Regions from separate parts of the Homo sapiens genome. Here regions 1 and 2 are each reported to be linked to region 3. Evidence: microRNA targets listed by miRTarBase, many of them from high-throughput screens and not tested one by one. Region 3 holds a microRNA gene; each other region holds the end of a gene's coding sequence.

Region 1 (10,124 bases), not on the chromosome of region 3:
AGCAGAGAGGGCCCCTCCCGATGGGACATGAAGCCAGATGGCAGTCAGGCTCTGTGGGCAGCTGCATGTGCCCCCGACGTCCCAGCAGCCAGCTTGCAGGGAGGGGGGAGGCCAGGCCTGTGCAAGGAGGACTCCTGTCCAGCTCAGGAAGCTCTTCCAGGGGTTAAAGGCAGCCCTCCCCTCTCCCAGTCACATGTCTTCTGGTCAGCAGGAGCCAGAGGTTCCTTCCAGGCTGGGTCACTTCCCATGGTGCCCCCAGGTCCCCCAGGGCAGAAGCCGCAGCATGTGCATCTCCCTCCCCGTTCCAGCAGCTGCAGCCCTGCAGCTCTCGCCTCGGGTACAGCCTGGTGGCGTAAGGAGGAGGCAGAGTCCCACTGATACCTCAGGATCTCCTCCCCCAGCTTGCAAGGCTGGGGGGCCCACATCTGGAGGCCAGGTGCTCCTTGGGGCAGGCGGGGCTGCGGGGCCCTGATCCTCCCTGCCACTGGCCCTGACTCATGCGTCTACCCTTGAGTCACAGAGGGAGGCCCTGCCCTTCCCTCAGTCTGTGTGCCCAGACCAGGCAGGCCAAGTGGCCCATCCTGCCGGCTGGGTGCCTGTGCCAGAACCTAGGCAGTCCCTGTGGTGTGGATTTGGCTTCCCCCACCTGGCTCTTGGCCTCAACTGAGGTCCCCAGCGGCGTTGGGGTAGCCCGGGGCCCACCACCCTCCCTCTGTCCAGAGCAACTTTGCTATGCTTTCCCGGCTGCACACATGCACAGACGGCAGGGCCTGAGAGGCAGCGCCTGGCCACATCCCGGGCACTGCCTGCTTCCCCGTGAGTCTTTGGCAGGTCCCTCACACCTGCCAGGTCTAGTAATAGGACATAAAGATGAGCCACCAGCCTCCCAGTCTCAGGTGGAATTCGTGAGCTGGTGCAGGTCAGGTACCCGTGGTGGTGATGAAACACTGATCAGAATAGGCGCTCGGTGCCACTGTCACAGGAGTGCAGGAACGAATGGATGACAGGCTGGGAGCACCCAGGGTTGGGGGTCTTGGGGTCCTTTGGAAGCTCTGCCAGGCAGTGTGGGATGTGTCACCTGACGCCAGCACCCCTCCCTGCCCCACTCCCAGGAAACATGTTTCCTACCATTGGTGACGTCCACCTTGCACCCTTCACGGATGAACAGCTCTACATGGAGCAGTTCACCAAGGCCAACTTCTGGTGAGTGTGCCCTGGGTGTCCCGCCTGGGCCCCACAGCCTGCCTTCTCAGGGACAGCCCCAGCTCCCCAGAGAGCCTGCACTCCTCTTTTTCTGAAAGACTTGGGCTAGATGAGGGCTGACTGGGAGAGAAGGCAGGGCTACCCCACCTGCCTCTTCTGCAGCCCTGACCTTGCTGTGGGGGTGGGGCCTGTCCACAGGTACCAGCCATCTTTCCATGGAGTGGACCTGTCGGCCCTCCGAGGTGCCGCGGTGGATGAGTATTTCCGGCAGCCTGTGGTGGTGAGTAGGGCCTCCAGGGTACTGCTGCAGTGATCACTTGCCATTGCTGTGCAGCTGTGCAGCCCTCAGGAAGCTACAGCCCCTCTCTGAGCCCTCTCCTCTGCCCTGCACAGCGCTCTCACAGAGATTTGGGCCAAAAGTGTCAATGCATGTAGACACTTAGCACACAGCACACATGCAATACATGTGGAACATTATTAGGTGAGGCTAAGGCAGAGGGGGCATTTAGGCTCAGGAGTTCAAGATCAGCCTGGGCAACACAGAGACGCCATCGCTATTTTTAAAATTAAAATAAATAAATAATAAAAATAAAAAAGAACCATTACTAGATGAATTTATCCTTGGTGAGCTGATGTGATTTATTGATTGATTTTACTTGAGATTTTTGATACATAGATCCATGATTTAAAAATCAAAAGGAAAAAAAAGCTAGGTGCAGTGGGTCACACCTGTAATCCCAGCACTTTGGGAGGCCAAGGCGGGCAGATCACGAGGTTAGGAGATTGAGACCAACACGGTGAAACCCCATCTCTACTAAAAATACAAAAAATTAGCCAGACGTGGTGGCGGGCGCCTGTAGTCCCAGCTACTCAGGAGGCTGAGGCAGGAGAATGGCGTGAACCCGGGAGGCAGAGCTTGCAGTGAGCCGAGATCGCACCACTGCACTCCAGCCTGGGCGACAGAGTGAGACTCCGTCTCAAAAAAAAAGAAAAAAAGGTTCCATTTTATTCTGTTTTCCCCCTGCTCTTGATGTTTTTCATTCGTTTTGGGAGACTCTTGGACTATCTTGGATACTATCTCTTTAAACACTACGTCTGCCCCATTCTTTCTCCTTCTGGGATTCCAATTACGTGTACAGTGAACCTTTTCACCATATCTCAGATGATTGTTATACTCTTTTCTGTCTTTTCCATCCATTTTTTTCTCTCATTTTCTTTTTCTTTTTTTTTTTTTTTTTGAGACGGAGTCTTGCTCTGTTGCCCAGGCTGGAGTGCTGTGGCATGATGTCAGCTCACTGCAACCTCCACTTTCCGGGCTCAAGCGATTCTCAGACTCCTGAGTAGCTGGGAGTACAGGCGCTTGCCACCACTCCCAGCTAGTTTTTTGTAATTTTAGTAGAGATGGGGTTTCGCCATGTTGGCCAGGCTGGTCTGAAACTCCTGACCTTAGGTGATCCGCCTGCCTCGGCCTCCCAAAGTGCTGGGATTACAGGCGTGAGCCACCATGCCCAGCGTGTTCAGTCTTTTGTGATATCACTGGGGAGTGAATGAGTGAAAAAAGCAGGAAATATTTTGGTGGTATTATGCAAATTTTGTATTATGATGAGGGTGCCTTGGAAGAGGCCACAGTTTGAGAAGGTGCTGCTTTATGGTACAGCCTTTGGTAATGTTAATGCAAGTCCAGTGGTTAGCCTCATTACCAATATGCTGCTGAACCACCCGTTAGCTTTTATTGTTTTTTGAAACAGGATCTCACTCTGTTCCCCAGGCTGGAGTACAGTGGCTCAATCACTTCATGGCTTACTTCAGCCTCGATCTCCCAGACGCAAGTGATCCTCCTGCCTCAGCTTCCCAAGTAGCTGGAACTATAGGAGTGTGCCACCATGCCCGGCTAATTTATTTTTTTGTAGATATGGGGCCTCACTGTGTTACTCAGGCTGGTCTTGAACTCCTGACCTCAGGTGATCCGTCCGCCTCGGCCTCCCAAAGTGCTGGGATTATAGGCATAAGCCACTGCACCTGGCGTTGAGCCTCTTATTAGCGGCTTTCTGCTTGGTGTCTTAGCCTCTGATGCCCTGCCTCGCTCAAAGCTCAGGAGTTGGCCAATTTCACAAGCGCACTGAGTGTGCACCGCCCACCTTGCCCTCCTGCACTTATTTCCCTTTGCTTTGACATCACAGCCCCTTGAATCCGAGCTGCCTTGGTAACCCTGAGCTCCCATTTTGCTTTCCCCACCCAAGGAAGCTGCTGAAAGGTCGAGGTGGCCGTTTTCTGCCCTCCCCATGGGGAAAAGGTAGAGGCCAGAAAGGGCTCCCTCCAGAAAGGGCATTTCCCTCCTTTCCAGGAGCTTGATCCCCAAAATCCTGGCCGCTCTGGTTGGTCACCAGTGCTTCCAACAACTGGTTTATTCTTTTCTTTGGATTTTATTCGGTTTACATAGTTCATGGCAGGTGTGTTAGTCGGATATAAACATTGCTGGGAGTGGACAGCAGCACTAGTGTTGTTGTTGTTTTTAAGAGACAGGGTCTCCCTGTGTTTCCCAGGCTTGATTCACACTCTCGGGCTTAAGCGATCCTCCTGCCTCAGCCTCCTGAGTAGCTGGAGTTACAGGCATACAATTCCACACCCAGCTAGCACCTAGTTCTTTAACTTGCTTTTTTGGTTAACTTGCTTAATGATTTAGCTTGGAGATCTTTCCTCATCTGTTCATAAAGAGCCTCTTCATTCTTTCTCACGTCCGCATGGTCTTTGATGGGAGAGCCATCACTGGTTTAATTAGATGGTTTCCAGTGTGTCGCTACCACGGACAATCTAATTATACATGTAAGTTTGTTGATGTGTTCATGTATCTGGAGGTTAAACTCCTGTAGTGCCAAATCTTTTATGTGGATAAACACTTGTCATTTGGAGAGCTGTCACCTGATTGCCCTCGGTGGCGTTGTGCCGGTCCCCTCCTCACGGCGTGTCTGGGAAGAGCAAGCTCGTTTTAGCTGCACAGCCTAGAAGCCGTGGGCAGACCTGGGGGAAGGGGCAGGGCTCTCCCCTCCCATGCTGGCCCTGGCGTCAGATGCCACGTCACACCTGTGGTCTCTCCCAGGACACATTTGACATCCGGATCCTGATGGCCAAGTCTGTCAAGTACACGGTGAACTTCTTAGAAGCCAAAGAAGGAGATTTGCACAGGTACTGGCACCCACACTCCATCCTCCCAGGCCTGGCTCAGGCCGAAGGTCAGGGCCACCCCTGGCTCCCGCCGGCATCCTGCCGTCCCAGGGCAGATGGTGGGCGGGGGCCCCAGGCCTCTGCACCTGGCACCCCCTCTTCTCTCTCGGCAGCGCCTGTCTGGCTTCCCCAGCAGCCACTGCCCTTTGCCTTCCAGGATAGAAATCCCATTCAAATTCCACATGCTGCATTCAGGGCTGGTCCACGGCCTGGCTTTCTGGTTTGACGTTGCTTTCATCGGCTCCATGTGAGTGCCGCAGAGCAGCCCATGCTGCCTCCTCCCCACTCCCAGGGCTTCCTGCAGCTGCAACCTGGCTGGGGGGGTGGAACATGGCTCCAGGTTCCACCATCCCTTCCAATGGGAGTGAGAGCCTGTCTCGGAGCAAGAGACTGTTGTGGGTGGGGTGTGTGTGTGTGTGTGTGTATGTGTGTGTGTGTCCTGTGTTCCCAGTGTCTGTCCCTCATGGGTCTGTGTCTGTCTCTTGGCACATGTCAGGGTGAGTAGGGATCTCGTGGTTGCGGGCCCCTCGTGTGTACATGTATGCCTGCTCATGTTTGTGTCTGGGACTGCCTGGGGGCCAGCCTGTCTCTGCTCCAGGGTCCCAGGGGTCCCTGGCAGAGGGGGCAGGTGCTTGGGGAGGACTCAAGGCATACAAGGTGGTGGCTCCAGTGGTGGCGCCGGCCCAGTCAAGTATGTGCCTGTCCCTGCTCCACAGAATGACCGTGTGGCTGTCCACAGCCCCGACAGAGCCCCTGACCCACTGGTACCAGGTGCGGTGCCTGTTCCAGTCACCACTGTTCGCCAAGGCAGGGGACACGCTCTCAGGGACATGTCTGCTTATTGCCAACAAAAGGTGCGACTGCTCCCTGGGGCTGGTGGTGGTGGGCAGGGGTCCATCTGCCCAGCAGCTCATGCCACGGCCTGCACCCTGTCCGCAGACAGAGCTACGACATCAGTATTGTGGCCCAGGTGGACCAGACCGGCTCCAAGTCCAGTAACCTCCTGGATCTGAAAAACCCCTTCTTTAGGTAGGAGGGGCCCCTTGCCTGCACAGGGGGGCGCCCCGGCCCTGCAACCCCCTTGCCCCTGCCCATGGCTCTGTCTCTGCCATAGATACACGGGCACAACGCCCTCACCCCCACCCGGCTCCCACTACACATCTCCCTCGGAAAACATGTGGAACACGGGCAGCACCTACAACCTCAGCAGCGGGATGGCCGTGGCAGGTGAGCAGGGCCCACCCCAATGCCCAGCCAACCCGGGAGGCCGCCCTCGCCGCAGGCCTGGCCCCTCTGCCTCCAGCCCTGACGTCTCCCTCTCTGGACACAGGGATGCCGACCGCCTATGACTTGAGCAGTGTTATTGCCAGTGGCTCCAGCGTGGGCCACAACAACCTGATTCCTTTAGGTGAGTGTCCCCCAGGGCCAGGGGCAGCAGGGAGCCATGCCCAGGACTGCCCAGGGGCCGGGAAGGGCCTGTGGTGACCAGGGTCGGCCTCTGCTTGGTCCTTTCACCTTTTCCTCTTCCTGGGGGCTCTCGGCCGAGGCTCTCCGTCCTCTCTGCCTCGCTCTGCAGCCTGCTGCTGTGCATGGGCTGGGTGGCTGGGGGCGGTGACGCCGTCTCCCTTCCTTCTTTCCTCCCTCTCGCTGCGCAGCCAACACGGGGATTGTCAATCACACCCACTCCCGGATGGGCTCCATAATGAGCACGGGGATTGTCCAAGGTAACGAGGGTGGCGGGGGCAGGGCCCGTGGGGGCCGAGCTAGCGTGTGAGTCGCCATCCTCTGTCCGGCCGCCCGCCTGCCCTCTTGCCTGCCCTTTCTCTCTCTCTGTGACTCTGCCTGGGGGCTGGGCGGGCCAGGGCAGCCCCTCACTGCCATTGCCTGCTCCACAGGGTCCTCCGGCGCCCAGGGCAGTGGTGGTGGCAGCACGAGTGCCCACTATGCAGTCAACAGCCAGTTCACCATGGGCGGCCCCGCCATCTCCATGGCGTCGCCCATGTCCATCCCGACCAACACCATGCACTACGGGAGCTAGGGGCCCGCCCCGCGGACTGACAGCACCAGGAAACCAAATGATGTCCCTGCCCGCCGCCCCCGCCGGGCGGCTTTCCCCCTTGTACTGGAGAAGCTCGAACACCCGGTCACAGCTCTCTTTGCTATGGGAACTGGGACACTTTTTTACACGATGTTGCCGCCGTCCCCACCCTAACCCCCACCTCCCGGCCCTGAGCGTGTGTCGCTGCCATATTTTACACAAAATCATGTTGTGGGAGCCCTCGTCCCCCCTCCTGCCCGCTCTACCCTGACCTGGGCTTGTCATCTGCTGGAACAGGCGCCATGGGGCCTGCCAGCCCTGCCTGCCAGGTCCCTTAGCACCTGTCCCCCTGCCTGTCTCCAGTGGGAAGGTAGCCTGGCCAGGCGGGGCCTCCCCTTCGACGACCAGGCCTCGGTCACAACGGACGTGACATGCTGCTTTTTTTAATTTTATTTTTTTATGAAAAGAACCAGTGTCAATCCGCAGACCCTCTGTGAAGCCAGGCCGGCCGGGCCGAGCCAGCAGCCCCTCTCCCTAGACTCAGAGGCGCCGCGGGGAGGGGTGGCCCCGCCGAGGCTTCAGGGGCCCCCTCCCCACCAAAGGGTTCACCTCACACTTGAATGTACAACCCACCCCACTGTCGGGAAGGCCTCCGTCCTCGGCCCCTGCCTCTTGCTGCTGTCCTGTCCCCGAGCCCCTGCAGGTCCCCCCCCGCCCCCCCACTCAAGAGTTAGAGCAGGTGGCTGCAGGCCTTGGGCCCGGAGGGAAGGCCACTGCCGGCCACTTGGGGCAGACACAGACACCTCAAGGATCTGTCACGGAAGGCGTCCTTTTTCCTTGTAGCTAACGTTAGGCCTGAGTAGCTCCCCTCCATCCTTGTAGACGCTCCAGTCCCTACTACTGTGACGGCATTTCCATCCCTCCCCTGCCCGGGAAGGGACCTTGCAGGGACCTCTCCCTCCAAAAAAAGAAAAAAAGAAAAAGAAAGAAAAAATAAATGAGGAAACGTGTTGCAGCACAGGCAGTTTTCTTCTCCTTCTGCTCCCCTGTTTCTCATACCCCCAAACTCAGATGCTGGAGCTCAGGCCCGCCGTGTGTGCACCCAGGCAGGAGCGGGCGCTGTCCAGGCTGGGCCGCCCCCTTGGCTCTCCCTCCTGTTCCAGGGGAGCCATAGGAGGGAAAGCAGGTGGCCCGGGGGGGATATGGGGGCCCCAGCCCTGTCCCAAAGCTCCCTGCTCGGCTGCCCCTCGCCCGCCTTTATATAAATTCTCTGAATCACCTTTGCATAGAAAATAAAAGTGTTTGCTTTGTAAGAAAAGTCTGGAAAGTAGCAGAATCATCTCAAGGTGTCAAAGGAGCCTTCAGTCATCGTCTGGGGGGCAGGACAGGCAGAGGGGTTGGTCCACTTAGGTGTTGCCTGAAAGAAAGAATTGTCTGGGAGTGGCCCCAGAACCTCTCGCCTTGACTGGGAGTGGGAGGGCAGCCCCCTTAGCCCAGCTGGGAATAGTCCTTACCTGTGGGACCCGGGCCTTCCTAGGAGGGGGCCAGGGACTGCGGCAAGGTAGGGGACAGCGCGATGTTTGAGGGCAGAGATGTGATTTGGGGTGGAGGAGCCACGTTCTCCGGAGGCAGCGACTGGAAGAAGTACAACTGCACAAGACCCCTGGGGTCAGAGGCAGGGCCAGCCCATGCCCCCCTAGCCCCTCGGCCCCACCTGTGGCCACCCCAGACCCGTACCTTACAGCCCATGGCCAGGAGGGCGTGGAGCAGCACGACCACGGACAGCAGCACTGTGGCCACCAGCCTGGTGTCCTCACGGACCACGGGCCAGAGGGTGAATACCAGCCCGGCGGCTGACAGGCCCAGGGCCAGCGCCCCAAAGAGCCACTGCAGCCAAGGCACAGGGATGAGCCACAGGACCTGGGAGCAACACGGCGGCAGGTGACCATGCCAGTCCCCCCAGCCACCACCCACTCTGCACCAGGCCACCCTCACCACCATGGGAATGAGGCGGCAGGTGACCATGCCAGTGTCCCCACACAGCCACCACCCACTCCGCGCCAGGCCACACTCACCACCATGGGGATGAAGACAAAGAGGGAGTAGCCGTAGATGCACACAGTCTCCAGGAAGGTGTAGGGCCCCATGCGCTCCTGGACACCCTTGCGCCACCGCAGGAAGCCCCACAGGGCCAGGGGCACCAGCCACGCATAGCAGTAGATGCTGATGCCTGCCACGGTCACTGGGGGGGGCAAGGTGAGCAGTCACCCCCTGTACCCCAGGGCCCTGCCAGGCATTGGGCCTGCCCGTCTGCTTACCCTTGTGGAACTGGGGGCTGTAGTGGATGGAGGGGTCCCTCCTCTGGGCCAGCACCAGCGTCAGGTTGCCAGTGACGGCCAGGACAAAGGCCAACGTGGCACAGATCCAGAAGGGGCCTGGGGGTAGGGGGCACAGTCAGGGTCCCGGGCCCTGCACTCCCAGGACAAGCAGACATGTATCCTGACTGAGCTGTGCTGAGACCCCAGCCTCTTCCTAAGCACCTTGCCTGACTCACCAGGACACCGGGGGCCTCCTGGTGGCTGAGCCCAGTGCTGGCTGTCAGTTCATCCCCCTCCCCGAAACACTCAGGACTGCACACCCTTGGCCTGTGTCTCACCTCATTGGTGCCAATTCCTCAACCCCTGTCACCTCCTCTTTGACTCTCTGACCCCTTCAGCCATGGGGAGCAGCCAGGCCCAGTTCTTGGCCCCTTCCATGTCTGCGTTCACCCATAGTATGACCTCCTTCAAGCCCAGGGCCTTATGCCTCCTCTAGAGCCCAGGGCTCTGCCCTGAGCACTGCAGGCTCCAGTTCAAGCTCCCGGGTGGGCATCTCCGGCTTCATCCACACCCTTGCCCTCTGCCCTCACTGCCAAGCTGGTCCCGTGGATACGTGGCAACTCTATCCATCCCGTTAGTCCAGGCAGAAATCCCTAGAGCCTGCCTCCGCTCCTAACCTCCCACTCCCCCCACCCCCACCTATCTAGCCACAAAGCCAGTCTCTTCTACTTCCCCAGCACGTTCCAGAATCCAGTGCCACTCTCCACATCCACAGTCCCCACCATGTGGCCGCCTCCACCCCAGCCTCCTGGCTTCCGCCCTCGCCACTCATGATGGCGAGAGGGACCCCGAAAACACTTAAAGATCCATTCTCGGCCAGATAACAGTGACTCACACCTGTAATTCCAGCACTTAGGAGGCCGAGGCGGGTGGATCACCTGAGGTCAGGAGTTTGAGACCAGCCTGGCTAACACGGTGAAACTCCGTCCCTAATAAAAATATAAAAATCAGCCGGGCATGGTGGCACGTGCCTGTAATCCCAGCCACTCAGGAGGCTGAAGCAGGAGAATCGCTTGAATGCGGGAGGGGAAGATTGCAGTGAGCTGAGATCACATCACTGCACTCCAGCCTGGGTGACAGAGTGAGACTCTGTCTCAAAAAAAAAAAAAAAAGATCTCTTCTTGCCACAGCATGGGAGGCTTGTGTGATCTGTCCCCTCGCCTGTGACCTCCCTGCAGCTCACTCGCTCCAGTGGTAATGCCGCCCTGCAGTTCATGCAAGTTCCTGCCATGAAGCTTACGTCGTTTCTGGAAGCCTCTTTTCCTAGGTCTCCCCCACCCCTC
Region 2 (10,124 bases), not on the chromosome of region 3:
TTTTTTTTTTTTTTGAGACAGAGTCTCCCTCTGTCAGCCAGGCTGGAGTGCAATGGCACGATCTCGGCTCACTGCAACCTCCGCCTCAGCCTCCTGAGTAGCTGGGATTATAGGCGTGTGCCACCACGCGTGGCTGATTTTTGTATTTTTAGTAGAGACGGAGTTTCACCACGTTGGACAGGCTGGTCTCGAACTCCTGACCTCAGGTAATCCGCCTGCCTCGGTCTCCCCAAGTGCTGGGATTGCAGGCGTGAGCCTCTGCGCCCGGCATGAAGCATCTTTAAGAGAGTTTCCATTGTTTAAGTTTTCAGAGTTGTTGAAATTCCATAACATTCTCCTTCTTGGTCTTTTAAATTTGGCCTGTATTCTTTCCTTTATGCCAAACTGCAGAATTTTTCATTATTCTGTATATCAGTCAGTGCCATTTCAGCTGTGCCCTGGTGCGGGTCATTATTGTACTAGACAATTGAGTTCTTATAAAATCCTGTGAGTTGTTACTTTTTTTTGTTTTTTTCAGAATTCTTATGACAGATATTAGACATACTGAATCCAATCTTTTCCATTTTTATTTTGGGGTGTAACGTATTTTACGGCATCCTGTTTCATGGATGCAGTGGCATGTTTGTGCATTAAGACTTCACACCAATTTTGACACCCTCTTCTCATCTCCGTGCAGCTTAGATTGTCGCTTCACCTGCTTGCTAAGTCCGATGCACGCCTGCATTTTACCATGCAGAAATATGTTCAAGCCACTCATCCTCTCATGTCTCTTCACCAGTTCTTTTGTTATGCTGGCATATACCTTTGTTTTTATTTATATTCAAGTTTCCAGACATAGCATTAATGCCTTTACTTTTGTGTTTTTATTTCTGTACACTGTCTTGCTGGGTCTCTAGAGATGACTTGGCTCATCTTTAACCAGAGGTGCTGCGTGAGGGTTTTTATCAGAGACTGCAACACAAAGTCAGGTGCATGGCTTGGGTGTCTTGTTTGGGGATGTTTCTCTTTTTAGATCACTGTTTCCCATCATAACGTGTTTTTGCTACTAAAGCATCGACAGGTTTTGCTTGAAATTTTTTCCAAAAATTACCGGGTACGCCGAAACATGATCCAGTCTCGGTTGACTCAAGAGTGTGGAGAAGATCTCAGTAAACAGGAGGTGGATAAAGTACTAAAGGTACATCCATTTTGTGCATAACAAACAATATCAAAGGCTCTGGAAGGGGCTGACAGTGTGTAGAAGGGACTCTAGTGTCTTTGTGTATATGAAATCAGGCTTCCTTGGGACCACTCCCCAGTCAGTCTTGTCTTGAGCAACTGTTAATGATTGATTGATTGGCATTGGTTGGGGAAGGGGGTATGTGCCAGAGGACTGACCCCTTCAAACAATATAGTCACAGTGGTGTCCAAGGGAAAGAATACAGCCATGGATGCTTTGTTTCTCTTTCTGGTTGGGCCAGGCCAGTAATGCCCCTTTCATCCCTCTTCTCTGCTTGTCACTAGAGACAGAAACTAAAAACCATGGCTTCAGGCTGCTAAGAGCCTAAAACAATAGAACAACAAAAAAATATGGTAGGTTGGATGAGCTTGGCAGTGGGTAGGCGTCTTCTAAAATGATAGGGCCTAGTTGAGAATCCTCACTCTACTCTCCCTTGAATTTTGAACTATCTTCTGATTGTTGCCATAGCCACACACATGACTTTCAGTAGAATCCATTCTTAAATTTAGTTTAAAAAGGAATATGATCTGTTTACTATATGAAAGCACCTAATGTACAACCTATAATGCTTTTCTGAAGTGACTGTAGTACAAATACCAACCATATTTGCAGCAACACTGAGAGACAGAAAACTGATGACAATGTCTTGTTTTGATTAAACATCCAGAGCCATATAAGTAATACTGTTTTTTAAGCACCCTTGTTCTGGGCATGTCAGTATCTGTATTTCGTAGACCCCCTTTTTTTTTTTTTTTTTTTTTTTTGAGATGGAGTTTTGCTCTTGTTGCCCAGGCTAGAGTGCAGTAGCACAATCTCGGCTCACCGCAACCTCTACCTCCCAGTTTCAAGCAATTCTCCTGCCTCAGCCTCCTAAGTAGCTGGGATTACAGGTGTGAGCCACCATGCCTGGCCCACCCTCACTTTTAAAATGCCCCTGAGGAATGGCCAGGCGCGGTGGCTCACACCTGTAATCCCAGCGCTTTGGGAGGCTGAGGTGGGTGGGTCACTTGAGGTCAGGAGTTTGAGACCAGCCTGACCAACATGGAGAAACCCCATCTCTACTAAAAATACAAAATTAGCCAGGCGTAGTGGTACATGCCTGTAATCCCAGCTACTTGGGAGGCTGAGGCAGGAGAATCGCTTGAACCTGGGAGGCAGAGGCTGCAGTGAGCCAAGATCATGCCGTTGCACTCCAGCCTGGGTAACAAGAGCAAAACTCTGTTTCAAAAAAAAAAAAAAACACTACCCCTGAGGAAAGGGTGGCTGGTAGTAGCCATGGTGGTATGGTTAGGCAGTTTTTGATTTCCCATTTGTATTCTATTCACTAATCATAAATCGAGTGTTGACATTGTGGACAGAATGTAATTAGCTCCTTTTCCTGCAAAAATCTGTGCTTACCCTGTTTCTCTCTCATAGGACTGCTGTGTAAGCTATGGTGGCATGTGGTACCTTAAAGGGACAGTACAGTCTTGACAATAGTAGCAAACTACTAACCCAGCAAATCTAAGCCCAAGGAAGAAGGGCGGAACCAGAAGTAGGGCCTCGACTTGCTTCAGACGACACAGAGCAAGAGGAACTGACCATCTCATGACCTGTGGCATTGCACGGTGCAGTGGACAGAAGGGATTATCCTCAGCCAGTCGCAGGGTCAGCTTAAGTTAGTTAGATCACTCCCAGAAGAGACCAGCTGGGACCTTCTTTGCAGTACAATTTGAAATTCCTGATGTATTTTGCTTATTATTTGGTTTCATTCTCATAATAAAGAGAGTGTATACTGACATGGGCAGGATGATAAAAATCATGGTTTAATATTTTCTTTTGTAAACTTAATGCCAACAAGGTCTAAGTTATGTTTACAACATGAAGAAAACCTCAAAGTTCTTAATTTTTAAAATGCCTAGAAGACAATATTTAGTCTTGGATTATCTATCTGCTAAGACCTCCACCAATTTCATTAAACCAAATTGAATTATTCTATTCTTGGGATTCTGTGGCCACTTCACCTTTGACAACAACCTACTTTATGTAGCAGTCTCAACTGTTTACATGAACCATAGCAAAAAAATCAGAATCAAATCCATCTCCTTTTAATGTTTGCAGAAAGATGCAAACAAAACCAGGTAAGTATGGAACAATGTGTAAGTGAGGTTATCACACTTTGATGTAAAAATTTCTATTTTGTGTATTTTTAAAATAAATGCAAACACTAAACTAGCATCATGGTGCTATCTTCAAATGGTTACAGGAAGGCGATCTTGTTGGGCTCAGCGTTACGTGTATCTAGAGGGAACGGAGCTAATGGAGGAAGACAGAGCAGCACTGTCCACTAGAAAGAGGCGAGTCACGTACATAATTTTGAAAGTTTCTAGCAACCACATTAGTTTAAAAAGGTCATGTTAGCATATTATTTAGCTCAAAATATCTAAAACATCAACATAAGGTAAAAGTCTTCAAAATCTGGCATTTTACACTTTCCTCAACACTCAGTTTGGACTAGCCACATCATAAGTGCTCCGATGCCACATGGGGCTATTTGCGACAGTATTGGATAGCACAGCCCTAGAAACTGATGGAAAAAATAAGAGTAAGCTAGGTTGGATGACATGTGAATTTTGGTATCTAGATAAGGCTTTCGCCATCTTTTTTGTACAACACAGTCACTAATTGTCTGAAGGTTTAAATGACGGTCTATGCTATTTCCCCACTCCCCCCAAAATAAAACATCTAATATTTTAGCTATAGAATCACTAAGGCATTGATCAAGGATGTACTTTGCCAAATAAGTATTTGGTAACATCACTTAACAAGTTGATCGTGTATTGATTCTGTTAACATATGTGAACCTGAAAAGTAAAGTTACCAAAAGCGATTTGGAATATGTCTCAGCTTTTCCATCCTACTTCCTTCTCACTTTGAAAGGGGAAATGCTCATGTGGGACGGCACAGAATGTTAGTCCCATCACCTTGCAGAACTTAATTGGCTCAGTGGAGAAGTCAGAGCCTTAAATACTTTACATTGATAAAAAGAACTGGTTAAAACACCAAACTCAAATAGCAAGAAAAAGAAACAAGGAATATAGGAGGGAACTATTGTTTTAAAAAAAATTGAGGGAACTTGGGATGTCAGAATAGGACTTTCCAGCACTCATCCCCCTGCAGAAACATGAATTTAAACAACTGTCCACACACAAAAATACCTTCACAAGAGTTAAGGAACCTCTAGAGATTACAGCACCTTGGTGTACCACAGAAATAAGATGTACTAAAGAGGATAGGAGGGACAATTTTACATTACCTAGCTTACCCCCTCCCCAGCCCCAGGCAGCACAGGGTGGAGAGAGAGAGAGAGAGAGAGAGAGAGAGACCCTCTACTTGGAGGAAGGAGAACATTGGACCCCAAAATCATGCCAGCCCCAGACTCCAGGCCTGCGCCAGGAACACAGGCTCTAAGCATACCCACTGCCAGGCCTGCACCCATGAGCTCACACTCTAGCAGGCACCCCCTCCCCACCCTGGTCCAGCCCCATCTGAGTAAACCCCAGCACTGGGCTGGCCCTCACAGACTAGGCTCCAATATCCCCTGCAGCCCCAGGTTCTAGGCCAGCCCCCATGGCCCCAGGATCCAAGCGAGCCCTCAGAGACTAATCTCCAGGCCAGTATCTATATACCCCTGGCTCCAGGCTGATCTATATGCCCCCATGCCAGCACCCACAATCCCAGGCTCCAGTACAATACCCCTGGACCCAAGGTCCATGTGTGCCTCAGCACCAGGCTCCAGTGGACCCAGGTTCCAGGCACATACCTCAGTAAGCCTCAATGCCAGGCATGCCCTGGCGGACTGAGGCTCCAGAACAGTCCCTATGGACCCAGAACCTAGGCCCACCCCTGCAGGTTTTTAGGCTTCAGGTCAGCTCCCTGGATGCAGGCTCCAGGCCTGCCCTTGTGGACTCAGGCTCTGGTTGTACCCCTGCAGACCCAATCAACTGGCCCACTCCACTGGACCTACGTTCCAGGATTAATCCTATGCATGCAAGCACCAGGCTCATCCATCTGCTGACCTAGGTACTAGGTCAGCCTGCTCAAGGACTCCAGCAACAAGCCTGCCCACAGAAGACCACACCAGACAACTTGCCCAGAATCTCTGAATGGGCTCACTGGTAAACGGCTGTTCCAGGCAAAGTCAGACTGCAAAGATTAGAATCAGTCCTTACCACTTCATCCAATGTACAGACATCAACATATGACCACAAGGATCAAGAACAATCAGGGAGACATGCTATCACCAAAGTAACAAAATAAAGCACCAGAAATCTACCCTAAAGAAATGGAGATTTATGAACTGCCTGACAACTCAAAATAGTTTTAAGGAAGTTCAGCAAACTTCAAGAAAATACACAGATATAACTCAACAAAATAAAGAAAACCAAATCAAGAAACCTAATAGATTGAAGTTATATATTTTTTACAAACCATTCTGAAGCTGAAAAATAATATGAATGAAATGAAAAATGGAATAGTGAGCATCAACAGAATTGATCAAGCAGAGAATCTATGAACTCAAAGACAGATTATTTGAAAATATAGCCAGAAGAACAAAAAGAATGAAAAGGAATGAAGAAAGCTTAAGGGATTTATAGGACAGCATCAAAAGAGCAAATATTTGAGTTATAGAAGTTCAGTAAGGAGAAGAAAGAAATAAATCACAAAATAGTAGCAGAAAACCTTCCAGATCTGGAGAAAGATATAAATATCCAGGTATAAGAGTATCAAAAGTCTCCAATCAGATTCAGTATGAACAAAACTATACCACGACACATTATAATGAAATTGTCAAAAATCAAAAGACAAAGGGGAAGATCCTAAAAGCAGCTAGAGAAAAGAAGCAGATCACATATAAGGGAGTTCCAATAAGGCTAGCACTTCTCAGCAGAAACCTTACAGGCCAGGAGAGAGTAGGATGATATATTCAGAGTGCTAAAGGAGAACAAATTGCCAACCATGAATACTTTATCCAGCAAAACTTCAGAAATGGAGAAAAAGACATTCCCAGACAGACAAAAGCTGAAGCATTTCATCATCACCAGCTCTGTGTTTACAAAAAAATGTGAAAGGGAGTTCAAGCTGGTAGAAAAGGATGTTAATTAGTAACATGAAAACATATGAAAGTATAAACCTGGTAAAAGCATAATGTCAAACTCAAGAATACTCTAATACTGTAATGGTGGTATATATATTGCTTATCTTTAGTATAAAGGTTAAAAGATAAAACTATTAATAGCTAATTTGTTAAGGGATACAAAATATAAAACTTGTAAATTGTGACCTCAAAAACAAAATGTGGGAGAGAGAATAAAGTATAGTTTTTAATGCAATCAAAGTTATCTGCTTAAAATAGTCTGCTATCACTGTGTTTTACATAAGCTTCATGATAACCACAAAGCAAAAACCTATAGCAGATATGCAAAAGATAAAAAGGAATCAAAGCATACCTCTAAAGAAAATAAATCACAAAGGAAGACAGTAAGAGAGAAACAAAGGATCTACAAAACAACCAGAAAACAACAAAATTGCAGTAGTAACTCCTTACCTACCAACAGGGATAGGTAAGGAGTTACTACTGTGAATGTAAATGGATTAAATTCTCCAATCCATTTACTGTGAATGTAAATGGTTTAACTCTTCCATAATCCAAAAACGGAGTGGCTGGATTAAAAAAAAAAAAAAGATCTAACTATATGCTGCCAAAAAGTGTCTCATTTAACCTGTAAGGGACACATAGAGACTGAAAGTGAAGGAATGGAAAATGGCATTTCATGCAAATAGAAACCAAAAGAGAACAAGAGAGCTATACTTACATTAGATAAAACAAACTTTAAGTCAAAACTGTAAAATGAGACAAGGTCACAGTATAATGATAAAGGGGTCACTTAACAACTGTAAATATTCACTCAATATCTGAGCACCTAAATATAGAAAGCAAATATGAATAGCTCTGAATGGAGAGACAGACTGTAATACAATAATAGTAGGGGATTTCAATATCCCACTTTCAGTAATGGACAGATCAAGGCCAAAAAAAAAAAAAAAAATCAATAAGAAAGCATCAGATTTTACACATTAAACAAAATGGACCTACCATATACAGGAGATTCCATCCAACAGCAGAATACACATTCTTCTCGAGCATACATGGAATATTCTCCAGGACAGATCATATATTAGGGCGGTATCTTTTCTGACCACAATGGTATGAAACTAGAAATCAGTAACAGGAGGAATTTCAGAAAATTTACAAATACGTGGAAATTAAACATGCTCCTGAACAACAAATAGGCCAATGAAAAAAACTAAAAGGAAAAATTTTAAAAATATCTTGAGACAAAAATGGACACAAAACATGAAATACAACAAAAGCAGCTCTGAGACAGAAGTTTATAGCAATCCCCACCCACATCAGAAAGAAAAGACTTCAGATAAACAACCCAATGTTACACCTCAAGGCACCAGGAAAATAAAAAGAACTAGGCCCAGTTAATAAAAGGAAATAGGCCAGGTGAGGTGGCTCACACCTGTAATCCCAGCACTTTGGGAGGCCAAGGTGGGCAGATCACCTGAGGTCAGGGGTTTGAGACTAGCCTGACCAACATGGAAAAACCCCATCTCTACTAAAAATGCAAAAAAATTAGCCATGTATGGTGACACGCTCCTATAGTCCCAGCTACTCGGGAGGCTGAGGCAGAAGAATCGCTTGAACCTGGGAGACGGAGGTTGCAGTGAGATGAGATTACGCTACTGCACTCCAGCCTGGGTAACAGAGCAAGACTCCATCTCAAAAATACATACATATATACATAAATGGAAATAATAAAGACCAGAGCAAGACTACGTCTCAAAAATAAATAAAAGAAAGGAAATAGTAAAGACCAGAGCTGAAAAAAATGAAAAGATCAACAAAATTCAGTTGGTTTCTTGAAAAGATAAAATTGACAAACTTCTAGCTAAGAAAAAATAGAGAAGACTCTCATAGAATTAGAAATGGAAAAAGATAATCCCAGCACTTTGGGAGGCCAAGGCAGGTGGATCACCTGAGGTCAGGAGTTTGAGATCAGCCTGGTCAATATGGTGAACCCCATCTCTACTAAAAAATACAAAAATTTGCTGGGCATGGTGGCAGGCACCTGTAATCCCAGCTACTTGGGAGGCTGAGGTAGGAGAATCACTTGAGCCTGGGAAGGGAATGTTGTAGTGAGCTGAGATCCCACCACTGCACTCCAGCTTGGGCGATAAGAGTGAGACCTTGTAAGAAAGAAAGAAAGAAAGGAAAGAAGGGAGAGGGAGAAGGGAAGACATTACAACTGATTCCATAGAAATACAAAGGATCAGGCCAGGCACGGTGGCTCATGCCTGTAATCCCAGCACTTTGGGAGGCCAAGGTGGGCGGATCACTTGAGGTCAGGAGTTTGAGACCACCCTGGTCAAAGTGGTGAAACCCTGTCTCTACTAAAAATACAAAAAATTAGCCAGGCATGCTAGCAGGTTCCTGTAATCCCAGCTACTTGGGAGGCTGAGGCAGGAGAATCACTTGAACCCGGGAGGCAGAAGTTGCAGTGAGCCAAGACCATGCCATTGCACTCTAGCCTAGGCAACATGAGCAAAACTCCATCTCGAAAAAAAAAAATTAGCTGGGTGTGGTGGTACATGCCTGTAATCTCAGCTACTTGGGAGGCTTAGGTGGGAGAATTGCTGGAACCCGTGAGATGGAAGTTGCAGTGAGCCAAGATCACGCCACTACACACTCCAACCTGGGAGACAGAGCAAGACTCTCTGTCTCAAAAAAAAAAAAAAAAAAAAAAAAAAGAGAAAAGAAAAGAAATACAAAGGATCCTAAGAGACTACCATAAAAAATTACCAGCAAACTGGATAACCTACAAGAAATGGATGAGTTCCTAGACACATACAGCCTACCAAGACTGAATCACAAAGACACCGAAAATCTGACCAATGAGTAAGAAGGTTGAATCAATAATTTTAAAAAGTCTGCCATCAAAGAAAAGCCCAGGACCTGGTGGCATCATTGCCGAATTCAACTAAACATTTATGGAAAACTACTACCTATCTTTCTGAAACTTCCAAAAATTTGATGAAGAGGAATACTTTCAAACTAATTTTACAAGGCCAGCACTACCCTGATATCAAATCCAGACAAGGACACTATAAGAAAAGAAAATTAGGCCGAGCACAGTGGCTCATGCCTGTAATCCCAACACTGCGAGGCCAAGATGGGCAGATCACCTGAGGTCAGGAGTTTGAGAACATCCTGGCCAAAATGGTGAAACCCCGTCTCTACTAAAAATTAACCGAGAGTGGTGGCGCATGCCTGTAATACCAGCTACTCAGGAAGCTGAGGCCGGAGAATCGCTAGAACCTGGGTGGCGGAGGTTGCAGTGAGCCAAGATCGCGCCACTGCACTCCAGCCTGGGCGACAGAGCGAGACTCCACCTAAAAATATAAAGAAAGAAAGAAAGAAAGAAAATAAAAGCAAATTAGACCAATATCCTTATATCCTTGATGAACACAGCTGCAAAAACCTCACCAGAACTAGCAAACCAAATTCAGCACATTAAAAGGCTCATTCACCAGGATCAAGTGGGATTTATCCCAGTCTGGGCAATATAGCAAAACCCCATCTCTGCAAAAAAAAAAAAAAAAAAAAATTTTTTTTTTTTAATTAGCCAGGTGTGGTGCTGTGTGCCTATTGTCCCAGCTGCTTGGAAAGCTGAGGCAGGAGGACTGCTTGAGCCCAGGAGTTTGAGACTGCAGTGAGCTATGACCACCACTGCACTCCAGCCTGAGTGACAGAGTGAGACCCTGTCTCCAAAACAAAGTTGGATTTATCCCTGGGATG
Region 3 (10,124 bases):
TGAGCATCCCTGGAAGCATCCTGCCAAGTGCAAGGCCCAGGGTAAGTGCTGAATTAATACTTGCATTTTGCCTGGATCCTCACCCCACCCACCAATTTTAACCACGGATCCTGATGAGAGCTAAGTAGAGTACCAAAGGTCATTTCCGTTTTTTTTTTTTTAATGTATCACAGCTACTACAATTTGTATTTTGTATGTTTACAAGCACATGCTTGGAAAACAGAAAATAATTTGGTTTTAAATATTCCAGGAAATTACAATCTAATTGCATCAGTTCCCAACTGTGCCTCAGTTTCTAGCCTGGAAAATGGGGTTGTATTACAATTAACTCTCTCTGACTTGTGATCAGGGTTCCTATTTTTTTTTTTTTTTTTTGGTTTTTTGTTTGTTTTTTGTTTTTGAGACGGAGTTTCGCTCTTGTTGCCCAGGCTGGAGTGCAATGGTGTGATCTCGGGTCACTGCAACCTCCGCCTCCTGGGTTCAAACGATTCTCCTGCCTCAGCCTCCCAAGTAACTGGGATTACAGGCGCCCACCACCACGCCCAGCTAATTTTTGTATTTTTAGTAAGACGGGGTTTCACCATGTTGGCCAGGCTGGTCTCGAACTCCTGACCTCAGGTGATCTGCCCACCTCGGCCTCCCAAAGTGCTGGGATTACAGGCGTGAGCCACTGCGCCCGGACTCTATTTGGTTTTAAAAGCTCTCTAGGGTTCCCTCTTCCCAGACAGCCAAATTAGGGAGTGACATAACCCGCAGCACAGTTGTCAAAGGGGCCCTTAATTATTCACCCATCCCAGAGGCATCGTTTGAAGAAAGTGCCTTCTTTAAGGGCATTGGCTGCCTAGATGTGTTCAAATATAAATGTGTGTGTGTATACTTACATTTTTAATAGACTTTTATTTTGGAATAATTGTAGATTTACAGAAAAGCTGCAAAGAATAGTACAGAGAGTTCCCTCAAATTCTTCGCCCAGTTTCCTCTAACATTTGCATCTTACACAGCCATGGCACATTTGTCAAAACTAAGAAATTAACACTGGTATTACTTTTAACTAAAGGCTTTTTTGGATTTTACCAGTTTTTTCACTCATGCCTTGTTTTGTTCCAAAATCCAACCCAGGATATCACACTGCATTTAATCAAATGTAAATACGTATGCTTTAACTTTTTTATTTTAAAATAATCATAGATTTACAGGAAATTGCAACAACAACAAAAAAAGTACAGAGATTCTGTGTACCCTTCCCCCAGTTTCGTTCAGTGGTAACTCCTTGTATAACTACACAATATCAAAACCATGAAATAGATATTGGCACAATCCATAGACAGTATTAAATATACATGCATATATATATATTTTTAAGTGAAAAATATTTTTAAACCTCGCTTTGCCTCACAGCCAAGAAGATCAAATACTTTCTCCAAAAACATAGAATTTGTATCTAACTCCACTCGCTCCAAACTCAAGTCCAACCATGAAATTATTGATCCCTCTCTCTAACCCTCCAACTACAGGCAAGAAGCTGCCCATACATTCCCCAAAGCAGGAGTGCACTCTGCCACAGGCCTAGATGCCGTCAACCTCCTGGACCTTGAACTCCCTAAATTAATGGCCTCTGTGTGAGTATGTGTAAGCAGCCCCTCTCTGTCCCAGTCCATCCTAAAATCACTCCCTTGGAGCCACCACTGCCCCTCTCATCTTCTAGAATTTCTAGAAAGATAAAGAGCTAGATAAGCATCTAGGTACCTTTCTTCTGCTGTTAGCTCTAAAGACAAGTGAATATATCCTAGCTAGGATGTACTCTAAGGAATGCAGAAGTAGGCCGAGTGCAGTGGCTCATTCCTGTAATCCCAGTGCTTTGGGAGGCCGAGGTGGGCGGATCACCTGAGGTCAGGAGTTTGAGTCCAGCCTGGTCAACATGGCAAAGCCCCGTCTCTACTAAAAATACAAAAATTAGCTGGGCGTGGTGGCGGGTGCCTGTAATCCCAGCTACTCGGGAGGCTGAGGCAGGAGAATCACTTGAACCCCCAAGGCAGAGGTTGCAGTGAGCTGAGATGGTACCACTGCCCATTTCAAAAAAAAAAAAAAAAGAATGCAGAAGTAAATTAAATGACCACAAAGAGTTTTTTTTAATTTGAGACAGGGTCTGGCTCTGTCACCTAGGCTGGAATACAGTGGCGCAATCTCAGCTCACTTCAATCTGTGCCTCCTGGGCTCAAGCCATCCCCTGACCTCAGCCTCCTGAGTAGCTGGGACTACAGTCCTGCCACTATGCCTGGCTAATTTTTGTATTTTTTGTAGAGATGTTGCCCAGGCTGGTCTGAAACTCCTGAGCTCAAGGGATCCATCCACCTGGGCCTCCCCAAGTGCTGGGATTACAGGCATGCGCCACCGTGCCCAACCCAGACATCACTTTTATCTGAAGCAACAACTATCTGCTCTTTCTGTTTCCTTACTAATTATCCAGGAACTTTTACAGGTGAACTCTGAGGAGGACAATTTTTATTGTTTTTATGTCAGCATAACTAAAAGTAAAGCTGGATAGGAAGAGGTTACTTGAAAATGATTTCACCTGAACTCAAATGAATAAGCTGGCTACTGCATAAAGCAACAGAGGGGTCCCTTTAATTTAAAAGCTCAGGACTCTGAATCAATTGCTGGTTGGGAGAAGGTAGAGACATTCTTTACTTCTGCCTAGAACTGGGGAAAATGGCGTAGACTTCTGCTCTGAAGCAGTCCTCAGTGCTGCTTCGGTCAGAACTCCCGAGAGGCATCTGAGTGCTGGCCTGTCACTGCGGCTGGCATTCCAGGCATTTCATTGGCCCCACTTCAGCCCACGCCTGGCTCCACGGGGCTGGGCAGCTGAGGGGAGTTTGTGGCAGAGTGGGCATGGGGCACGGCCCGTGCAATGTGCGTTACAAAGGGGCTCTCTCTGAAGCAAGTCCTCTGCACTCCAGTCTATTTGAGGAAGAAAAGGACAATTCCCATAGGGAGGGGGTTTGCTGAAGCAACCAGCTGCCTGGTTTCCTCTCCAGCATTGAGAGGGAGGGAGGGCTGGCTTAACTGGGGGACGGCCTTCTCATCTGGACTGTGTCAAGGCCAAGGTTAGGCTCCAAATTCCAGAAAACCTCTCTGCAGGGTCTTCTTTCAGAGTGGTGAGAATGGAAGCAGGCTCCCTTCCCCTCCAGCACTAGGAAGCCCCGCAATTGGTGAGGTGCAAAGAAAGATGGGCCCAGGCAGGGAGGCGGGAGCAGGGGAGGTGCCCAGGGCAGTGGCTGGAAGGGCAACGGGAGAAGCAGCAGAGGCTGGGGGTGGGGGTCGCAGCAGGTGCTGTCCCTGGCCTGTGTGAAAGGTACTAGAAGGCCCCATCCTTGGTGCCACATGGACCCCAGAGGCTTGTCTTAGTCCATGGGGTCCGAGGTGTAAGACACTTACGTTTGGCGTCACCTCTTAGGCTTGGATGAATTTCAGAAAGTGCTAGACTGGAGAACAGTGGAAAAAATCAGTGGAACAAGATCTGGAGCACTCACTGCTCAATGTCAATGTTAGAGAGCACAACGACACCAATGGGAGGAGGGTGAGGACCAGAGGCTGATTGCATGAGCTCTGTTGGAGTGCAGGACCCACTAACGGGTTATCTCAGGGTTCCTGGAGGCCACGGCTGTGCCTTGTGGTCCAAGACCTGGGGAAGCCACCACTGTGTCTTCCCTCTCCATCCTCCGGTGACTTTGGTCCAATTCCTGTTGCCATGGCAATCAGCCCAGCTGGCCTCACAGTTCACTGGCCTCAAAGTTGGCATCTGTAGGTGAAGCCAGTGGGACCCAGAGAACTTAATTCTTCTCAACTGAGCTGGCTTGGAGGAACTTTTCTCATCAGCCACTGGAGCAGAGAACGTCACCAGCGTCTCACTGACGTCAACATCCTGGGCCTGGCTCTAGCTGAAAAGGAAAATTCTCCCCAAGGCAGACACATCTCCCGAAGCCCACACAGGCACTTTCTATGATTGCACTGGAAATCTGTCTCCTGGGGACAGGGAGCGCGTACGCTCACAGTCAAGTCACAATGTTGAGCAGTCTCCAGGACTCCACGTTCATCTCTAAGAACAGGAGCCGGTGGTTGGGCGCAGATTCTTGAGCCAGATTGCTCGCGTTCAAAACCTGGTCCCTTTTTATTAATTGCATGCTTAGTTACATTTTCTGTTTGTACTTTTGTTTCCTTCTCTGCAAGACGGGGTTAATCACAGACACTTGTACATGATGTAATACACTTACAATACTTAGGACAGGCCTTCCTGCATAGTAAGTGCTCTGCAAACACTGGCTACTATTCTCCCTACGTGCAAACTTCTCCCAGCCAAAAGCCGCCCACACCAAGCCCCTGTGCCTTTTTCCTTCCGCACCCACGAGCAGGCTGCTCCTGGGGCCCTGGAGCTCACTTTCCCAGCCGCCCTCACCACCCACCGTGGCGCAGAAGAGCTTCCGAAGTCCTGGCGTCTCCCACTGGTCTGGGCATCTCTCGCTTCATCTTCCCTCTTGGGCCCCACAACGTGCAGCACTTCTAGGGCAGTATACTTGCTGATTGCTTCCTTACTATTGCTCACAACAACCAGCTAAGACACTGCCAAAGAAACACTCACAGCTGGCCGGTCCACGGCATCCGGAGGGGACTCGGGGGACAGGCCTGTCCTGCCTCTCCCCAGCACCTGTTGATAAGAAGGAAATGTGGGGAGGAAAGAAAGGATGCAGGAGGCCGAGGTGGGAGGATCGCTTCAGGCCAGGAGTTCAAGACCAGCCCAGGCAACTAGCAAGACTCCATCTCTACAAAAAAATTTTAAAAATTAGCCAGGCATGGTGACATGCGTGCCTGTAGTCCTAGCTACTGGAGAGGCCAGGGCAGGAGGATCGCTTGAGCCCAGGGGTTGAGGCTGCAGGGAGCTGTGATTGCGCCAGTCTGGGTGACAGGGTGAGACCCCGTCTCTAAAAATAAAAATTGGGTGATGGCTCACACCTGTAATCCCAGCAATTTTGGAGGCCAAGACAGGAGGATCACTTGAGGCGAGAAGTTCAAAACCAGCCTGGTTAACATAGCCAGACCACCACCTTCAGCAACTGTCTCTACAAAATGAAAATAAAAATAATGAAAGAGAGAGGATGGAGGAGAAGGCTGAGACCAGTAACAGATTCCAAAAGGACTAATTGACAAGGAGAAAAAGAGTCAGCACTTCCCTGGAAGAGAAAAAATTCGAAAAGGACAGTGGTTGAAAAGTCAGCATGTCTGCGTGAAAGGGAAGCAATGAAGTAGCGCCAACTCCTCCCCCGTCCCGGGCACCGTTTAGGGAGAGGATCAGAGTTCTGCCAGAGAATCAGAACCAGAAGGAGATATAGATTAAGTTTATTTCAAGGAATCGGCTTACGTGATTGTGGGGGCTGGCTAGGCAAGTCTGAAATCCAGAGGGCAGGCCAGCAGGCCGGAAGCTCCCCGGAGGAGCTGACACTGCAGTCCCCAGGCAGGATTTCTTCTTCTTCAGGGAAACCTCGGTTCTGCTCTTGAGGCCTTTCAACCGATTGCATGAGGCCCACCCACCTCGCAGAGGAGAACCTTTGACTTACAGCCAGTGATCATCAGTGCTGACCACATGTACAACGCACCTCACAGTAGCACCCAGGCAAGCGTTTGGTTGAATCATGGGTATCACAGCCTCGCTAAATTGACAAGGAAATTGCCCATCACAGGGTTTAAGATCTAGTGCTTTAAGATCTACTGACTTCTTGTTGTTTTGTTGTTGTTGTTTTTATAGAGATGGGTTCTTGCCATGTTGCCCAGGATGGTCTCAAACTCCTGGGCTCAAGTGATCCTTCCGCCTCGGCCTCCCAAAATACTGGGGTTATAGGCATGAACCACTATGCCAGGCCAAGATCTAGTGACTTTGGATACGGACCACCACGGAACAGTTCCTCTTCCATGTGGGTGTGGGGGCATGAAGGACTGTTTTCAGGAGGATCAAAGTCACCTCTACCCCAGCATGGGAAGTCCCAGAAACTTGAGTTCCAGGTAAGGTAGTGCAGAAAAAAGCAGGCTCATGAGCCAGTGCTGTCTCTCTCTGTGCAAGGGGGAAAGAGCCCCTCTGAGGCCTCCACACACAGTCAGCAGGACACAGGACACAGAGGTCAGCCTGTTGTGGCCACTGTGAAATGTCCCGTTGGAGTTGACAGGAGCCTGCTCTGACCTCAGTCCTCCTCCTCCAAACAGGTGACCCTGTAATGCTCTGGTTAAAAAGCAAGCCAGCTGGACTGTGTTATCTTTTAGTGTGGGAAAAATGCTCTTAGGCCGGGCGTGGTGGCTCACACCTGTAATCCCAGTACTTTGGGAGGCTGAGGTGGGTGGATCACTTGAGATCAGGAGTTCGAGATCAGCCTGGTCAACATGGTGAAACGCCATCTCTACTACCAAAAAAAAAAAAAAAATACAAAAATTAGCTAGGCATGGTGGCATGTGCCTGTAGTTCCAGGTACCTGGGAGGCTGAGGCAGGAGAGTTGCTTGAACCTGGGAGGCAGAGGTTGCAGATCACACCAGTGCACTCCAGCCTGGGTGACAGAGCGAGACTCTGTCTTAAAAAAAAAAAAAAAGCTCCTAATATGTCAGATTTTAACCCAAAGGTAAATTCCAGCAGGGCATGCTCATCAGCTAGAGCGGCAGGTCTCGGCTTCACTGTGTAAGCATCGGCTGGGGAGCTTTTGGTAAAATGCAGATTCCCAGGTTCAAACCTAGAAGTTCAGACTTGGCAGCTCTGGGATGATGCCAAAGGTACATCCTGCAGTTGCTGTGTCCCCAGGTCAGCGCAGAGACAAGCAAAAACTCAAAGCTTCCTCCCTCCCTCAACTCCCAGCCAAGACTGGACGGGGCAGGGGACCCCAGAATCCTGAAAACAGATAGCCACATGGAAACAGTGACCACAGCACACTTGAACTTTGTAAGCACAGCAGAAGCGTGTGGGATGGGCTGGCCCATCCAGAGATGGGGTGCAAGAGGCAGGAATCTGGCCTCATGGTGGCTCCTGGCTTCAGCCCCAGCACTGCCACCAGAGGGAGGGCCGTGTGTTTTCAGGGGTGGGCATGGCAGGGGTGTCAGGCAAACACTAACACAGTGAAGTGCAACTGCCAAGTCTTCCAGCCAGCCCGATCCTCAGGCTCGGAAACGGTCCCAGAGGAAAAGATGGTTCAGAAGAGAGAGAGAGTAAGATCCCGGGGACATCTGAGCCAAACCACACGCACTTTCCACTGCTCAGCAGCCCCTGTCCCAGACTTCCAAACAGAATTCCATTTTCTGAATCTAGACAGCCACCTGGGTGAAGGCATCTACCCATGAAGGCTGCTGCCCCAGGCACCAGAAGGACAGGAGGGGGCCCTTCCTCTTCCTCCTGAGTCAGGACCCTCAGATGGAGAAGAAAATCCTCCTAGTCAGAAAGAGGAGGCTCTGACTTTAGGGACAATCTTTCTAGTTAGAGAGAGGAGGTCTGAACTCTGTGGACAATCTTTCCAGTCAGAGAGAGAAGGCCTGGACTTCAGGGACAATTTTTTCTGGTTAGACAGAGGAGGTGGTGGTGGTAGTGCATGCCTGTAGTCCCAGCTACTCAAGAGGCCAGGGTGGGAGGATCACTTGAGCCCAGGAATTGAGGCTGCAGTGAGCCACTGCGCTCTAGCCTGGGTGACAGAGCAAGACCCTGTCTCTAAAAATAAAAATAAAAAATTGGATGGTGGCTCACATGCGTAATCCCAACACTTTGGGAGCCCAAGGGGGGAGAATCACTTGGGGACAGCCTTTCCAGTCAGAGAGAGGAGGCCTGGACTCTGAGGACAATCTTTCCAGTCAGAGAGAAGAGGCCTGGACGCTGAGGACAATCTTTCCAGTCAGAGAGAAGAGGCCTGGACTCTGAGGGCAATCTTTCCAATCAGAGAGAAGAGGCCTGAACTCTGAGGACAGTCTCTAGTCAGAGAGAGGAGGCCTGGACTCTGAGGACAGTCTTTCCAGTCACAGAGAGGAGGCCTGGACCCTGAGGACAGTCTTTCCAGTCAGAGAGAGGAGGCCTGGACTCTCAGGACAATCTTTCCAGTCAGAGAGAGGAGGTCTGGACTCTGAGGACAGGCTTTCCAGTCAGAGAGAGGAGGCCTGGACTCTCAGGACAGTCTTTCCAGTCAGAAAGAAGAGGCCTGGACTCTGAGGACAGTCTTTTCAGTCAGAGAGAAGAGGCCTGGACTCTGAGGGCAATCTTTCCAGTCAGAGGGAGGAGTCCTGGACTCTGAGGACAATCTTTTCAGTCAGAGAGAAGAGGCCTGGACTCTGAGGGCAGTCTTTCCAGTCAGAGAGAAGAGGCCTGGACTCTGAGGACAGTCTTTCCAGTCAGAGAGAGGAGGCCTGGACTCTGAGGACAATCTTTCCAGTCAGAGAGAAGAGGCCTGGACTCTGAGGGCAATCTTTCCAGTCAGAGGGAAGAGGCCTGGACTCTGAGGACAGTCTTTCCAGTCAGAGAGAGGAGGCCTGGACTCTGAGGACAGTCTTTCCAGTCAGAGAGAGGAGGCCTGGACTCTCAGGACAATCTTTCCAGTCAGAGAGAGGAGGTCTGGACTCTGAGGACAGGCTTTCCAGTCAGAGAGAGGAGGCCTGGACTCTCAGGACAGTCTTTCCAGTCAGAGAGAGGAGGTCTGGACTCTGAGGACAGGCTTTCCAGTCAGAGAGAGGAGGCCTGGACTCTCAGGACAGTCTTTCCAGTCAGAGAGAGGAGGCCTGGACTCTCAGGACAGTCTTTCCAGTCAAAGATTCTAGGCCTGGACTTTGGGGACAGCCTTCTCCATCAAGAGAGAGGAGGCCAGGATTTTAGGCAATGGGGAATAATTAATCAATACATGAAAATTGATTGTGTTCCACAAAATACAAAACGTACCAAGTCAGCAATCTTTAACCATGTCAGACTTCCCTGGAGTCACAACCTGAGGACAGAGATTTAAATGATGTTCCTTTCTACAGAAAGGCCTTCACTCTAAGTATCAGGCCCAGCTTCTGCTGCATTAAACATAAGATGTATAAGGCCCCAGGCCTGATGTGTCTTGCTGCCCAGCCAGCCCTGCTGGTCCAGCAAACCAGGAGGAATTCGAGAAAATCAGAAGCCATCTTTAGCAGGAAATAGAACTCCAGAGGGGCTGTGAGCTCCTTCAGCACAAAAGAAAACGTTGATTCTGGCCGGGTGCGGTGGCTCACACCGGTATATCCCACTGCTTTGGGAAGCTGAGGTGGGTGGACCACTTCAGGTCAGGAGTTTGAGACCAACCTGGGCAACATGGTGAAACTCCTGTCTCTACTAAAAACACAAAAACTAGCCGGGCATGGTGGCAGGTGCCTGTAATCCCAACTACTTGGGAGGCTGAGGCGGGAGGATTGTTTGAACCCATAAGGCGGAGGTTACAGTGAGCCGAGATGGTGTCACTGCACTCCAGACTGGGTAACAGAGGAAGACTCTGTCTCAAAAAAAAAAAAAAAAAAAGAAGAAGAAGAAGAAAAGAAAATGCTGATTCTGGTAATGATGCTCTCGGATGGTATGATTCCCAGAAACACAGGAGCTCTCACCATCACTGGGATGTGAAAATTCACTCAGGAAACCTCCTCAGCCCCACAGCACATCTCCCAGAAGCATGATGGTCCCCTCCACATCCAACACACAGCCACCGAGAGCCTCTGACCTGTGGACACCATGCTGGGTGTTCACCAGTCATGGCGGGGGGACAGACAGGTGTCCTGGGCCTTGGAGAATCTAATGTCCGTGGAGCAGACACAGGCAAGAAATCACAGCTGGGCAAAATTACAATGGGGAGCAGTGCTAGGGAGGAAAGACCCCTAGCTTCTCTTCCAGAGGAGAAGGTAGTCTGGGATGTCGTCCCCGTGGCCTCATCAATGAGATCAGGGAAGGGTAACAGGGAACACGCCGCACCACGGGCATCAGGGTGGGTGAAGTAGGGCTCGGGGAGGGAGGACCAGCAGCCTGGGAGGGTCGTGTGGTGGCTGAAGTTGCCAAGGAGGCCACGGTGTTGAAGCAACCAAGAAGGCGGGGACAAGTGAGGCAGAAGTGGGCGAC

The links. Region 3 holds the annotated microRNA hsa-miR-34a-5p (UGGCAGUGUCUUAGCUGGUUGU, at 4,602-4,623, opposite strand). A microRNA usually pairs through its seed, bases 2 to 8, with sites in the 3' UTR of a target mRNA and lowers its output. Matches are read on the target gene's strand: a 7mer-m8 pairs with bases 2 to 8, a 7mer-A1 pairs with bases 2 to 7 and ends in A, and an 8mer does both.
Region 1: the mRNA of YIPF2 is a reported target of hsa-miR-34a-5p. The part of its 3' UTR that is shown has no 7-base or 8-base seed match.
Region 2: miRTarBase lists POLR3E as a target of hsa-miR-34a-5p. The part of its 3' UTR that is shown has no 7-base or 8-base seed match.

What each region holds. Positions count from the first base shown.
Region 1 is chr19:10,915,295-10,925,418 of GRCh38, forward strand. It overlaps YIPF2 (Yip1 domain family member 2), which reads right to left. Exons shown (of 10, transcript NM_001321439.2): 6 at 8,782-8,898; 7 at 8,539-8,705; 8 at 8,201-8,383; 9 at 7,978-8,113; 10 at 6,899-7,880. The coding sequence ends at 7,997. CARM1 (coactivator associated arginine methyltransferase 1) reads left to right here. Exons shown (of 16, transcript NM_199141.2): 7 at 1,113-1,203; 8 at 1,402-1,483; 9 at 4,301-4,386; 10 at 4,583-4,672; 11 at 5,142-5,279; 12 at 5,365-5,454; 13 at 5,540-5,652; 14 at 5,756-5,833; 15 at 6,081-6,149; 16 at 6,321-7,781. The coding sequence ends at 6,463. Among named protein-coding and RNA genes, the nearest start is that of YIPF2, 8.3 kb to the right of the region's middle. RefSeq lists a silencer at 5,738-5,917.
Region 2 is chr16:22,331,009-22,341,132 of GRCh38, forward strand. POLR3E (RNA polymerase III subunit E) reads left to right here. Exons shown (of 21, transcript NM_018119.4): 20 at 1,052-1,177; 21 at 2,636-4,088. The coding sequence ends at 2,692. It overlaps LOC124903664 (a long non-coding RNA gene), which reads right to left. Exons shown (of 2, transcript XR_007065026.1): 2 at 2,902-7,474. Among named protein-coding and RNA genes, the nearest start is that of CDR2, 39 kb to the right of the region's middle.
Region 3 is chr1:9,147,134-9,157,257 of GRCh38, forward strand. It overlaps MIR34A (microRNA 34a), which reads right to left and starts at 4,644; the gene lies at 4,535-4,644. It overlaps MIR34AHG (MIR34A host gene), which reads right to left. Exons shown (of 2, transcript NR_132742.1): 2 at 878-4,702. RefSeq lists a silencer at 4,453-4,689.